Homo sapiens: one gene and its partners. The protein of the gene in region 1 purifies or fractionates together with the protein of each later gene. This does not show direct contact. Each region holds a gene or a part of one and is shown in the gene's direction. Other genes may lie near its edges.

Region 1 (3,500 bases):
TCCCAGTCTTCTCTTCACCCTTCCTGGCCTTATTTCCATTCCATGTCACCTGCCAAAGTGTTCTTGCTGAGGTTTACTTCCTTGAGATCACAGACAGCCTCTTTATGAGGTTTTCTAACGCTCTGAAAGTCTTACCTGGCCTTGGTTTGGGTTAGTTGCCATCTCCTGACATTCTCAAGCCATTCCTCTAGAATCTTTCGGAGTGTCTTCCTGGTCGCTTCTGATGCTCATTGGCCATAAGGGCTTGTGTAAGTGTTTGTGGCTGCATGTTCCCTTTCTCCACATTTCCCCATGTGCTGCATCAGATTCCCCCAAATACAGCACCTTCTCCTGCTATTCATTTTGCCTGATGCCATCATTTTAAGGCCTTTTTCCATTTTAGCTGTCCTCCAAGTATTCCGATGATTCTGTGGCTTTCCAATCCAGTAAATATATCCTAGATCAGAGATGAGACCAAAAGTAAAAGAATCAACAGCCAAACCGACACAGGTGTTATTAAAGGACTTACTGTTTAAACATGCCTAAACCCTGTGCCTTGAGTGTGCAAGCTGACTTATTAGAAAAGGACAGGGCTGGCTGACCTGTCCCTATCAGTCCCAAGTCATGCACCCTGTGCCCCGGGAAGTGGGCGGTGACCCTATGCTGGTGGTGTGGCATCACAGGCCCTGGGCAGGGAGTGCTGTGTAAACCTGGGATGTAGAGCCGCATTCCCCCACTCCCTGTGCATGCTGGGCTTGGCCCCACATTATGCCAAGGGAAGCGGGACCTCTTCTGTCATTGGCCATCCTAGCCACCCCTCCCTGCCTTGTGCCTGCATGAGGTTGGGAGACTTGATGAATAAAGAATCCCTGAAGGACTCTGTTCCTTCTTCAAAAGCTTTAAGGAAGCATGGTTTGTATGAGAAATGGCTAATCAGAAAGGGATGATGTTTCATAGGTATGAAAGATGGGCAAAAGATACTATTTCATGGAGAAGGAGATCAGGAGCCTGAGCTGGAGCCTGGTGATGTCATAATTGTGCTTGATCAGAAGGATCATAGTGTCTTTCAGAGACGAGGCCATGACTTGATCATGAAAATGAAAATTCAGCTTTCTGAAGCTCTTTGTGGCTTCAAGAAGACGATAAAAACATTGGACAATCGAATTCTTGTTATTACATCCAAAGCAGGTAATGTTTCAAAGTGTGTTTCCATTGATGTTCTGTATGTTTGGCATAATAATTCTGGCAAGTTAGCCTGATTTTTTTATTGCTACATAATATTTTACATATTGATGGGGTGCATGTGATACTTTGTCCCTTGCATAAAATGGGTAATGATCAAGCCACGTGTTTAGGGCATCTGTCGCCTTGAGTATTTATTTCTTTGTGTTGGGAATAGTTCCCCTGATTTCACATTTAAGGTCAAATTCTGTTACACAAATTAGTATGATGTGATTTTCTCTAAATTTAAAACTGTCCCTAATAACTCTGGATAATTTATAAAGTTCTTGTATATTCTCCTAGAAAAAATATTCAGTTGGGGGGAAAGTCTCAAATAAGAATCTTGGGGCTCTGAATTTTAGATGAATTCTGGCAATTAAACTTAAGTTTTTAAAAATTTATTTTTGTATAAGAAAACAGCTTAATAGGTGGTGTTTTTCTATCAAGTGGTGATTTGTGCTGATTCATCCACATGTTCCTGTAGCCTCTGTTGTTCATTACATGAGTTACATTTTAAAATAGAATTTTCCTGTAAGAAAGACTTTGCCTATCAGTTTATCCTTGGAGGTTTCCACAGGAATTGCTGGTCTGCACACACCCATGGGAGCCAGAGGGAGATGCCTCTAGGCCGAAAGGGTTCCTGAGGCCTGAGCTCAGCCCCCAACCCCCCTGTAGACACCAGGGCACTCATCTCCCAGGAGGGTTGGTGTGTTCACTGTAGTTGAGGGTTTGTGTGGGCACCAGAGCACCTGCCTAGAAGGGGCTGAGAAGGGAGAGAGGCCAGGCCAGGGACCTTGACTTGAAGCTGCTTCTGAATAGCACTAAGGTCAGCTGTGCATAGCAAAGAATGTCTGGATGGGTGTGGTGGCGGCTACGCCACCGAAGCAGCCTGGGCCCCAGCACCAGCCATTTGCAGTGTTGCTGTAGTCCCCTCACTGGCCGTGGGGCTGGGATTACCTTTTTCTATGGCCATTTGAGGTTTGGTGCAAAAGGGGTAGGTTCAGGGCAGGCAGGGAGGTAACCACCAATAAGCCTGCCCCCAGGGCAGTGGCAGCTGGAGATAAGACTCAAGTCTGGTGGGGTGACTGAGGCCTGGACTTCTGTTCCCTCCGTGTCCCTCTCCCCCTTCCCCTCCTTGTCTGCTTTTCTCTTCCCAGCCTTGTGCTCTTTTTCTCTTTCCTCTCTTGGATTCTTTCAGGTTCCTCCTTTCCTGGGGATAGTAGGAAGCAGAATTATATATCCAAGCCTTGATCGGTTTGTGGAGTTTTAAAATAAACTTATTTGGAAACAATTTCAAGCTTACAAGAAGTTGTAAATATAAAAATAGTCCGAGGCCCATCCATATATGATTTGTCTGATGTTAACATTTTACCCCATTTGGTTTGTCATTTGATCTGTGTCTGTTTTTATTTATTTTTAAAATTTGTTCATTTATTTTTTGAGACAGGGGTCTTGCTCTGTCGCCCAGGCTGGAGTGCAGTGGCGTGATCTCAGCTCGCTGTAACCTCCACCTCAGCCTCCCGAGTAGCTGGGACAGCCACATGCCACCACGCCCATCTAATGTTTGTACTTTTTGTAGAGACGGGGTTTCGCCATGTTGCCCAGACTTGTGTGTGTTTTTATACATATACTTAATCCAGGATTGGGGGAAGCACTGCAGTATAATGCAAAATTTGCATGAAAATTTAAAATAAAACACCTTCCCTTAGGCTTCCATAGACCTCCCAAGGCACCCATTTCCTCCCTCAAGGAGGAGTTTGAGGATCACAGTTTACACGAAGCTCCAGACCACTGGTTGTGAGCTCAACACCCTGGCATTGTGTCCAAGATGCCCTTACGTGGTCACAGCCCAGATCCTAGCCCTCCTGAGCCGGGGCTGGGAAGCATCTGTGTGTAACTTCTTTGGGAAAGCCTGTCCTGTCCAGGGGTGGACTATTTGAGGTCCTGGGCCCCACCAAGAGCCAGCGTTCCTTGCTGTCTCAGCTGACCCCAGCCTAGGGAGCCGGGAGCCAAATGGAGTGAGGGTGGTGGAGAAAGAGCCCCAGAGGGAAGGAAGTGGCAAATCCCAAGAAATCCATTTCCTTCTTTATTATAAGGAAGGGTGGAGCATCCAGGAAACCTGCCGTTGGAGAGTTCTTTGGGGATTTGTTTGTCCTTTTTGTTTTGTTTTTGTTTTTACTTTGTTCTCTTTTGCACCCTCTCTTTTCTTCACCCCTCTTTTGTGTTGGCTTATTTCTTGTTTCTCCATTTTCTCTTCTCCCTCTTCTTCCTCTTTTCTGCTGTTGAAATGCCTTCTTCCC
Region 2 (3,500 bases), on another chromosome or scaffold:
CTCATGCCAGGCAGCCTGCCGGGCTCTGCAGAGAGCAGAAGCCCACCCACTAGGTCCCATAAGGCACAGACAGACACGAGCCAGGAGTGCCTAGACTTGGGAATACTGGAAGGCTTCCTGGAGGAGGGGGTGCTGGGGCTGATTCCTGGAGGATTGGTGGGAATAGGCTAAACCAAAGTTTGTCAACTTTTTGTTCGTCTTTGCCCCCCAGGAAGCTTTTTAGGTGGTTTTTCCCAATGGCTGGCACCCATGCATCTTTGGTACTAGGATACACTGCATATCCATTCATGTCCTGTGTCTCTGGGCTTGTGAAGAATAAGATCCTCCCCACCCCAAGAGCCAGCGTTTACCCCCTGGAGGGTGGTGCTGACCCCGTGGAGGCCTTGACAGTGCTCAGGTGCACCAAGGAAGGGACACAAGTGTCTGCCAGAGAGGGCGGGCACAGGGCAGGAGCCCCACTGCTGCCTGAGAAAAACCCTAAGTGATGAGACACAGTTCTCTCCAGCGGAAATCACAGCAAACGCAGATCCCACCACAGATGTGCTCCCGAACGCACAAGGCCACAGCCTTGGACCTCTTAGGGCCCTGCCAGAAACCACAGCGGCTGGAGGTGACACCAAGGACCAAGTCCCCCTGCGGCCTCTGAGTCCCTGCAGGTGCCCACCGCCCCCAACTCCCCTGGGTGGTCCCAGGCACCCCCTCGCCCCTGCGCCCCCTGCCATGCACCCCTGCTTCACTCTGCCCAGGAGCCCCTTCCTCACTTTCTCCCGAGGAAGGAACCCGCCCAGCCTCCCTGAACCCCAGCAGGTATGAGCCCAGCGGCCACCTGTCACCTCTGAGCCTGGGACCTTGCCTCCCTCGCTGCCGCGGGCCAGAGACCATCAATGCCTGAGTGGGAAAAGGGTCTCAGAACTCGGCCCCTGAGCAGCACATTCCTTGGGTCACATCTGGGCTGGGGACAGCAATGACACTGATGTGTTCACCCAAAACAGGCCTCCTATATGGCCGATTTGGAAAGTGCACTCAGGGCATGTTGGTATTGGGGGTGGTTTTGGACTGGACCCAGCCCCCATGTGACCGAGGCTGTGCTTGCAGGAGGATACTTCTCCGGTGAGCAGGCGGGAGAAGTGTTGGAGAGCGCCGTCCTGGCTTTGTGTTCCCAGGTGAGCCGTGGGTGCTGTCGCGTTCTCTACATCCATGTTACACAACCGCCCAGAGCGACACGCATCCCCTTAGCATCACCCAGACCGACACGCACCGCCTTAGTATCACCCAGACTGACACGCACCCCCTTAGCGTCACCCAGAGCCTACACGCACCCCCTTACCCAGACCGACACGCACCCCCTTAGCATCACCCAGAGCTGACACACACCGCCTTAGCGTCACCCATGAGCCGACACACACCGCCTTTGCAACCCAAACATTCACGTGTGTTCAGTGTTTAGTAAAAACTGTAGGATTACAAGAAAATATGGCTACATCAGAAATTTTTGCAAAAGAAACCTGTCGGGGCGTCTCCAGATCTGCACACACCCAGGCCCTCTCACACACCTTTTGCAGCTACTTTGAGAATTCTCTGAGCATTCGGGGGACTCAGCCTCCAATTTAAATTTGTTTCCTGGCAGTTTCCTTGTTTATTATATTCTTTTACCTATGTCACCCAGGAAATCAGAGGGCCCCAACCCCACATTCTGATCCGGCATCTCTCTTCCATCCGGGGACAGAAGCTGCAGTGCTGTGCTGTTTAGCACGGCAGCCGCTGGGTTGGGGGAAGGCGGCTGTGTGAGTGAGGGTCTCCGATTTCCTTTCATTGCACTGATTTTGAGGAGCCACTTGTGCTGGTGCTGGTGCTGCTGCGGTGGGCAGGGCCACTGTGTCCGTGGAGACGTCATTCCACTTTTGCTGCTAGGAACTGGACTGAGTGCTGCTGCATTTTAGCACAATGTCTCAGGTGACTGCAGACGTGGCCTTTCATCTCCCCTGTCACTGCTTTCACACTTGATCTGGGACCAGTGGAACGTCCCTGTGACTGGCTCTGAGCCTCTCTCGGGATTCGTTGTATAAAGCCCTTCCCTGAGCCTGCGGTTCCAGAGAGGGGCGTGTCTGATTGTGGCGCACGTATGTGGCCACATTTACTCGTCTTAACATCGAACTGGCCACAGGGAGGGGTTTTCCTTGGCTCCTCCAAGAGCCAAATTTTACCCCCTTGGGGCAGTGTTGACCCCATGGAGGCCTTCAGAGTATGCAGGTGCACCAAGGAAAGCACGGGGGTCTCCTCGCCAGAGAGGGGGGCATAGCGGGGAGGTGTTGTTGATAAAAAGTGTCCGGGTGTGGTGGCTCATTCCTGTAATCCCAGCACTTTGGGAGGCCAAGGCAGGAGGATCACTGGAGGCCAGGAGTTCGAGACCAGCCTGGGCAACGTAGTGAGACTTCATCTCTACAAAAAATAATTTTAAAAAATTAGCCAGGCTTGGTGGCACATGCCTGTAGTCCCAGCTGCTCAAGAGGCTGAGGTAGGGTGGCTTGAGCCCAGGTGTTCGAGGCTGCAGTGAGCCGTAATTGCACCATCACACTCCAGCCTGGACAACAGAGCAAGACCCCGTCTCAAAAAAATGACAGCCACAACTGATTTCCCAGTGAGGCTATGGCCAAGGCTGGATGACCGTTGTGTGCCACTCTGTGTGTGCCCATCCATACCACTGTCTTGGGGAGGCCAAGGTCAGCCAGGTGGAGAAGTTGCCAGCCATCCACTAGACCAGGGCCAGCAAACTCAGTCCAATCCTGCCGTTCACCTGAGTGTCGTCTGTGGGTGCCTTTGTGCTTCCACGGCACAGTAGGCAGTTGCCAGAGACCGTGGCCCGCAAAGCCGGTAACATCTCCCACCTGGACCCTTACGGAACACGTTTGTCGGGCTCAGCGCCTGTGCTCTGCCGAGAGCTTCTCTCCGGGAGCAGTGGCATTTGTCTGCGGCCTCTGTGCTGAGGCACGTGGACCAGGACCAGGTGGCCACGCCCTGCAGAGCGCGGCGCTGAAGCGCAGAGGTGCACTCAGTTCCTCCATTGTGGCCTTTCTTACTCTGTACTGACTGATTGCCTTTGATCCATATCATTAGCGGTGTCTCCCATTCCTGGGTTCTATGCAGTGTAGCCACGGCATTTCATCATATTTTAAGGATAATTTTTGTTTTGCATCTTAAGAAAATTCTTGAGAGTCCACTCATATAAATTTCATGTGTCATATTGAAGAATAATTTGTCCAGTGGAATGGGAGAGTAATAAAACCACCGCCAACCGAGGAGGCTTCATATGCTTATGGCTTTTCCAAGTGCTCATAAATGCCTTCTCTATTACATGTTTTCTGAACATATTTTCCTTTACTGGAACAGCAGTTGCCCAGATAAGCCAAGGCTTAGAAACGAGCCTCTGAATGCAGTTGCTAATTCACGAGCTTCAGGGTCGTCACTTTTAAGGGCCTTTTCTACCTTGTTGGGAAGAAACA
Region 3 (3,500 bases), on another chromosome or scaffold:
TATCATTTCAGTTCTTTAAAACTTACAATTTTCTTGGACTTTTTTGCAGTTGAGTCGCTCTTGACAGCTATAAGTGAAGTCAGGAAGGAGATTGAAGACTTGCAGTATAGGGAACAAAAGCGCATTGCAATTCAGGGGATAATTACTGCTATAAAGTATATCCCCCATAGCAGTGCGACTGAAAGTGCCTCAGCATCAGAAACACTTCGGGTATGGTGCCAGAGAATTAATAGTATTTCTCTGAAAGCACTGTGATTATGATTGCAATTGGTACCTTTTACATTTTATTCAGAACTCACGTGTATTGACTCTTAATAATGTAAGCCTAAGAGAAAACATTAGGTTGGTGCAAAAGGCATTGTGGTTTTTGCCTATAAAAGTAATGGCAAAAACCGCAATTCCTTTTGCACCAACCTAATATTTTTACTTTTTTGTTTGTTTCCTTTTTGTGTCATTTATTTGGGGGCAGACTAGGCCAATAATGATTATAGCCTCTTGACATTTCCCAAGGCCCTCAAAACTTGGTATCCTGTTTTTGCATTCTGTGTAATTTGAGGCTATTGTGGGTGTTTTAAATTTCTAGGTGGTATCTATGACTATATTAATTTCCTACCTTTTGTCCAGGCCAGTACTACAGGAAAGCTTTCATAGGAAGTTTTCTCTATATCTGGCATAGTAGTCTTACCCAGGTTCTATAACTCTTCTAGAATAAATAGTTTAGTATTATAGAAGATGCCAGTTCTGGAATATTGGCACAATCAAGACAAGTTAATTTTTCCCATGAGTTTATCTTTTTAAACACTACGTCCAGGACTACTACTATTTATATGGAAATAAGTGTTTAATCCAGCTTTTCAGATAGTAGTATAAGAAGGACTTTTGTTTGTCTTCCTTTTAAAAAATATTTTAATAGCAGATGGATTAGATTCAATCATTTTCATAAAAGCACTGTTATGATTGAAGTTTTGCCAGAACTGTTGATTATGAAAAATGAATACACTAAAATTGTAGTCTTTTATGAGATTAATAATTGTGAATTAGCCTAAAGTGTTTTCTCTAAATTATTGGTTTTAGAATGCTAACAGACCCTCGACCTCTCAAGCAGCTAGAGTAGAAATTCAAGAAAGAAATGGTAAACGGCATCAAGATGATGAGCCTGTGAATTCTCAGTATTTCCAAACTACATCTACAAATTTAAGTCTGAGCAATAAAATAAGAATTCTTCAAGGCCCACACGCTAATCCGTAAGTCATTTGTATTAAGTATATGTAAAGTATATTTTTTCTTTTGGGTTATCTCTACCCTGTAAAATAAGCAATTATCGTAGAAGCTGTATTAATTTGTTAGGGCCCCCATAACAAAATACCACAACTGAGTGACTTAAACACTGAAATTTGTTGTCTCAGAGTTCTGGAGGATAGAGTTCAAGATCAAGGTGTCAACAGCATTGGTTCCCTCAGGGCTGCGAGAGAGAATCTGTTCAATGCCTCTCTCCTAGCCTCTTAGGGTGCTGGCAATCTTTGGCATTCCTTAACTTGTAGAAGCATCACCCCAATCTCTGCCTTCATATTCACATGGAGTTCTCTCTGTGTAATGTCTGTGTCCAAATTTCACCTTTTTCATAAGGATACCACTCATATTGGATTAGGGGACCACCCTAATCCAGTATGACGTCATCTTTATCAGTAACATCTGCTATGACCCTATTTCCAAATAAGGTCATATTCAGAAGTCCTGAGGGTTAGGACTTCATCATATGAATTTTGTGGGGACACAATTTAACCCATAAGTCTGCCCTCTGGTCCCACAAAATTCCTGTCCTTCTCATATGCAAAATAGGTTCACCTCATCACAACATCCCCAAAAGTCTTATCCCATAGCACCATCAATTCTAATCCAAAATCTCATCTAAATTTCATATGGATGTAATTCATCCATCCATGATCATGGTGATTTATCCTGGGGCAAAATTCTTCTGCATCTGTATACCTATAAAATCAAACAAGTTATCTGTCCAGAATACAGTGATGAGATAGGTATAGGATAGACACTCCCATTCTGAAAGAGAGAAATTGGAAAGAAAAGGGGGATCATGGGTCACAAGCAACTCCAAAACCTAGCAAGGCAAATAAATTGCATTAGATTTTAAGGCTTCAGAATTATTCTCTTCGCCACAGTCTTATGTCCTCTGGGCTCACTGGGGTAGCATCCCCACTTCTACAATCCTGGGTGATGGCCCCACACTCTGGAACCAAGGAAATGAACCCACCCTCTGGAATTGAAAAGGGAGCACTTGTCCTCTGAAACCAAGGAGGTAGTCTCACTCCCAAGGTCATTCTTCCATTTTCCTGAACAACAAGAACATTATAGCTTACATTTGCTTACCAGTTGTTTAAGCATGGGTCTTTACTACAAAACATTCATACATTATGAATTGTACATGATTGGAAGTTTTGGTTTCTTTAAAGTGTCAGGAAAGCCCAAACACTCATAAAGCAGAGTGCAGAATCACTTTAGATTTTAAGATTTTAAAAATTCCAATCTTTTAGAGTGTGCCCGGGTGCACAGCAGTTTTTGGTTGTGAATAAGTAATAGGTAAAATTTTTAATTTATTTTTTAAAATTGTTTAACTTTTAATTTTTGTGGGTACATTTAGTAGGTATATATATATTTATGGGGGTACATGAGATGTTTTGATACAAGCATACAATGTGAAATAAGAATGTCATGGAGAATGGGGTATCCATCCCATCAAGCATTTATCCTTTGTATTACAATCAAATTACACTCTTTTAGTTACATTTAAATGTACAATTAAGTTATTATGGACTATAGTCACTCTGATGTGCTATCAAGTAGTAGGTCTTATTCATTCTTTCTAGCTATTTATTTGTACCCGTTAAACGTCTTCACTTCCCCGCACCCCCCTGCTACCCTTCCCAGCTTCTGGTAACCGTCCTTCTAAACTCTACCTTTATGAGTTCACTTGTTTGATTTTTAGATCCCACAAATAGGTGAGAACATGGAATGTTTATCTTTCTATGCTTGGCTTATTTCACTTAACATAATGATCTCCAGTTCCATCCATGTTGTTGCAAATCACTGGATCTCATTTTTATGGCTAAATAGTACTCCATTGGGTATATGTATCACATTTTCTTTATCCACTCATCTGTTGATGGACATGTAGGTTGCTTCCAAATCTTAGCTATTATAAACAGTGCTGCAGCAACATAGGAGTGCAGATATCTCTTTGGTATACTGATTTCCTTTCTCCTGGGTGTATACCCAGCAGTGGAATTGCTGGATCACATTGTATTTCAATTTTCAGTTTCTTTGAGGAACCTCCAAACTGTTCTCCATAGTGGTTGTACTAATTTACATTCCCACCAACAACGTACAGAGTTCCTTTTCTCCACATCATCACCAGCATTTGTTATTGCCTGTATTTTGGATTTAAGCCGTTTTAACTGAGGTAAAATGGTATCTATCCACGGCTT
Region 4 (3,324 bases), on another chromosome or scaffold:
CTGATTCTGCCTATCATTAGTAGTTATACTTGGAAAGCAGAGGAATTTGTAGATGTGCCACAGATGAAAGATGTTAAGAATGTGTTATAGTGTTCTGATAAACCAGGTCTTTAGCAATATGTAATAGTGCCTACAGGTTGCACTGAATTAGAGCATTCTGTGTAAGGTCTGTTGCTTTGTTTTATGTAAAGTGAATAGGTGAGTAGTGACAAAGAACTAGGTTGTTCTTTCATTTTGGTTTTATTGGTGTTGACATTTACTATCAGTACCTGCCATTTTTTGAAATAAACATTATAATTTTTACATTACTTGGGTATGTTTTTAAGTCTTTTAAACCTCAATATCTCCTCACCTAGAAAAAATATTTTAGGAAACCGAAACTATGATGTTAAATAGTTTGCACAAGGTTTTGAGGCTAGTTGGAGCTAGGACAAAGAGCTTCTAGTTGAGAGATTTTTATAAACTGTGAATTCAGCCTTATTCCAGGGTTTTTTTGTTTTTTGTTTTCAAATTTTTTCTTTCAGCAAAGTAATAAAATGTTTAATTTTTATTAAAATATTAATGTACCTTTTTTTTTTTTTCCAGAGAGTAATGCCTTCTAGCTTTTTCCTGCTGTTGCGGTTTTTCTTGAGAATTGATGGGGTGCTTATCAGAATGAATGACACGAGACTTTACCATGAGGTATTTATTGTTGTTTAATGAATATACTAATTGATACTGGGCTTGTTTGTGTTGTTTAATTGTCAATCTGAGAATTTGAAATTAAACAATCTATATTATATGGCAGTCTTTCTAACTGTTAAGTCTGAGTGTTTCACATTCACTGTTGACTGCAGGCTATCATCAAAACATTACATTTCCTTTTACAAAGGTTCTGGTGACTCAAAATGTTTTCTAAAAGACACTCCCTAATTGGGGAGGGGTCTTTTGAGACAATTTTGTATGTACTTAATCCATGTTTAAGAAAACTGTCCTTTAACTCTTACCTTTGTTTACAGTATATGTTGTTTATGTAATGTCCTGATGTACATTAATATACAGGAAGTACATTAATATATTAATCAGGCCAAGGCCGGGCGCCGTAGCTCACGCCTGTAATCCCGGCACTTTGGGAGGCCGAGGTGGGTAGATCACCTGAGATCAGGAGTTCGAGACCAGCCTGGCCAACATGGTGAAACCCTGTCTCTACTAAAAATACAAAAAATTAGCCAGGCATGGTGGCACGGACTTGTAGTCCTAGCTGCTACTTGGGAGGCTGAGGTGGGAGGATTGCTTGAGCTGGTGAAGGTTGAGGCTGCAGTGACAGAGCAAGACCCTGTCTCAAAGAAAAAAAAAAAAAAGAAACATACCTAAGTTATACAGTTAGTAGGTGGCAGAATTGGAATTTGAACCTAGTAGGATAGGATTGGATTGATGCTTTCTAAACCCTTCACTTAGGGATTTTTTCTTGAAATAACATGGTTATAGTGATAGACCTTTTTTCTTTTAAAAGTGGTGGCAAAGTACTAAACATAAGCTATATTTTTGTTCCCCAGAAAGAGAAATCTAAATTTTATTTTTATTTATTTATTTGAGATGGATGGAGTCTTGCTCTGTTGCCCAGGCTGGAATGCAGTGGCGCGATCTTGGCTCACTGCAACCTCTGCTTCCTGAGTTCAAGCAATTCTCATGTCTCAGCCTCCCTAGTAGCTGGGATTACAGGCGCCCACCACCACACCTGGCAATTTTGTTGTTGTTGTTTTTAATGGAGTGATGGGGTTTCACCATGTTGGCCAGGCCGGTCTTGAACTCCTGACCTCAAGTGATCCAATTGCCTCGGCCTCCCAAAGTGCTGGGATTATAGGCGTGAGCCACACCGCTCCTGGCCTAAATGTTAAAAATACTGTTTTAATTAAACAATATTGAATTTTAGGAATTTATCCTAAAAAGATTCTTTTATATAATAATCTACTAATATTAATTGGGCAATTACTCAGAGTTATACGTACATGAATATTCACAGTAGTATTGTTTATAATAGCAGAAAGGAAGGAAAGTAGGAACTTAATGCCCATTAAATGGCCATTAATTAAATTGTTTATATCCATATGGTATAAAATATATAATTATTAAAATTGGTTGCAGAGATTGATATTTAAGTAATTTTGAAAGATATTCATTTCAGTGTTGAACTTTCAAAAGCAAGTATGAATCTACTTACATAAGATTCTCTGTAGAGATTTCTAAGTATTAAAGATAGTGTTACCTATAAGCTGTGATCACTGATGATTTATACTTTTATATTATTTGATTTTTTTCCTACAGTGACTATTAATCTGTTTTTATTAATACAAGAGAGTGAAACCTTAAAGGCATATAATTTTGTGGCTTTTCTTTTATTGAAAAGTGTTTCAAGAAGTAAATTATAATAAGTTGCTGTTCTAAAACCTAACCAAAAATCTTAAATGGGAAAAATTGAAGTACAAAAAAGGTGATTTTAAGTAAGCTATTTGGTAAGAGCTTTATGGAATGGGAAAGAATAAAAATTTTAAAGCATGTTTTGCAACATAAAAGTAGCACAATTACGTAGGTAAATGATAAGATAGCTTAAGGGAAAGATGTTTCAAACTTGAAGTAATTTTAAAATCTCTTGCATATTTCATTTATACAAATTCATTATATACATTATTCATTTATATACATATTCTTTCAAAGTAAAATCTTTGCTATGTTTCTCTTACATGGTAATTATAAAATCTGTTTACATATGTGTATCATCATTATAATGTATAGAAATTGGAAATAATAATCCAATTTGAGTTAAATAGGAGTTATCTCAGTGTAGAACAAGATGTTCTCTTTAGACTGCATGCTGTTTTGACAACCTATCCTAAAATGTAGGCAGTCTGTTTTTAATACAAAGGATTTTGTAAATCAGTATAATTAAATTTATTGCAACTGTTTATTTTTAAATACAGGCTGACAAGACCTACATGTTACGAGAATATACGTCACGAGAAAGCAAAATTTCTAGTTTGATGGCAAGTACTTAAATTTCAGTTTTTAGAAGTTAATTTTAATGTTTCATTTTAATTTAAGTAGCATATACCCCTGACCCCAACCACCCAAGTTTACATCCCTAAACCCATTCATTCACCTAATGGGGCTCTATAGGATAAATTCTATGGGAGCATAACTTTTCTGACCTTACCTCAAATACAAGAACATTTAGAGCTGCTAGGTACTTAAGCCTCATCTAATCTAATTTTCACATTTTGTTCTAGAGAAATTGAAACCCAGAGGTGTGACTTACTCTGAGTCACATAGCTGGCTGGTGATGGATGT

Evidence for each region. The genes of interacting proteins can lie anywhere in the genome.
Region 2: the proteins of DNAJA4 (region 1) and ACOX3 purify together in Homo sapiens (co-immunoprecipitation; one large-scale study listed by IntAct). This does not show direct contact.
Region 3: the proteins of DNAJA4 (region 1) and RADX purify together in Homo sapiens (affinity purification with mass spectrometry; one study listed by BioGRID and IntAct). This does not show direct contact.
Region 4: the proteins of DNAJA4 (region 1) and TIPRL purify together in Homo sapiens (affinity purification with mass spectrometry, with the first as the bait; one large-scale study listed by BioGRID). This does not show direct contact.

The regions. Positions count from the first base shown.
Region 1 is NC_000015.10:78,274,562-78,278,061, forward strand, and holds part of DNAJA4 (dnaJ homolog subfamily A member 4), read left to right. Parts: exon of another isoform or gene 1-539; intron 540-936; coding exon 937-1,167; intron 1,168-3,500.
Region 2 is NC_000004.12:8,371,224-8,374,723, reverse strand, and holds part of ACOX3 (peroxisomal acyl-coenzyme A oxidase 3), read left to right. Parts: intron 1-211; exon of another isoform or gene 212-656; intron 657-1,095; coding exon 1,096-1,163; intron 1,164-3,500. UniProt on the Homo sapiens protein: Oxidizes the CoA-esters of 2-methyl-branched fatty acids.
Region 3 is NC_000023.11:106,639,478-106,642,977, forward strand, and holds part of RADX (RPA-related protein RADX), read left to right. Parts: intron 1-49; coding exon 50-210; intron 211-336; exon of another isoform or gene 337-419; intron 420-1,074; coding exon 1,075-1,244; intron 1,245-3,500.
Region 4 is NC_000001.11:168,195,962-168,199,285, forward strand, and holds part of TIPRL (TIP41-like protein), read left to right. Parts: intron 1-585; coding exon 586-681; intron 682-2,957; coding exon 2,958-3,020; intron 3,021-3,324. UniProt on the Homo sapiens protein: May be a allosteric regulator of serine/threonine-protein phosphatase 2A (PP2A). Isoform 1 inhibits catalytic activity of the PP2A(D) core complex in vitro. The PP2A(C):TIPRL complex does not show phosphatase activity.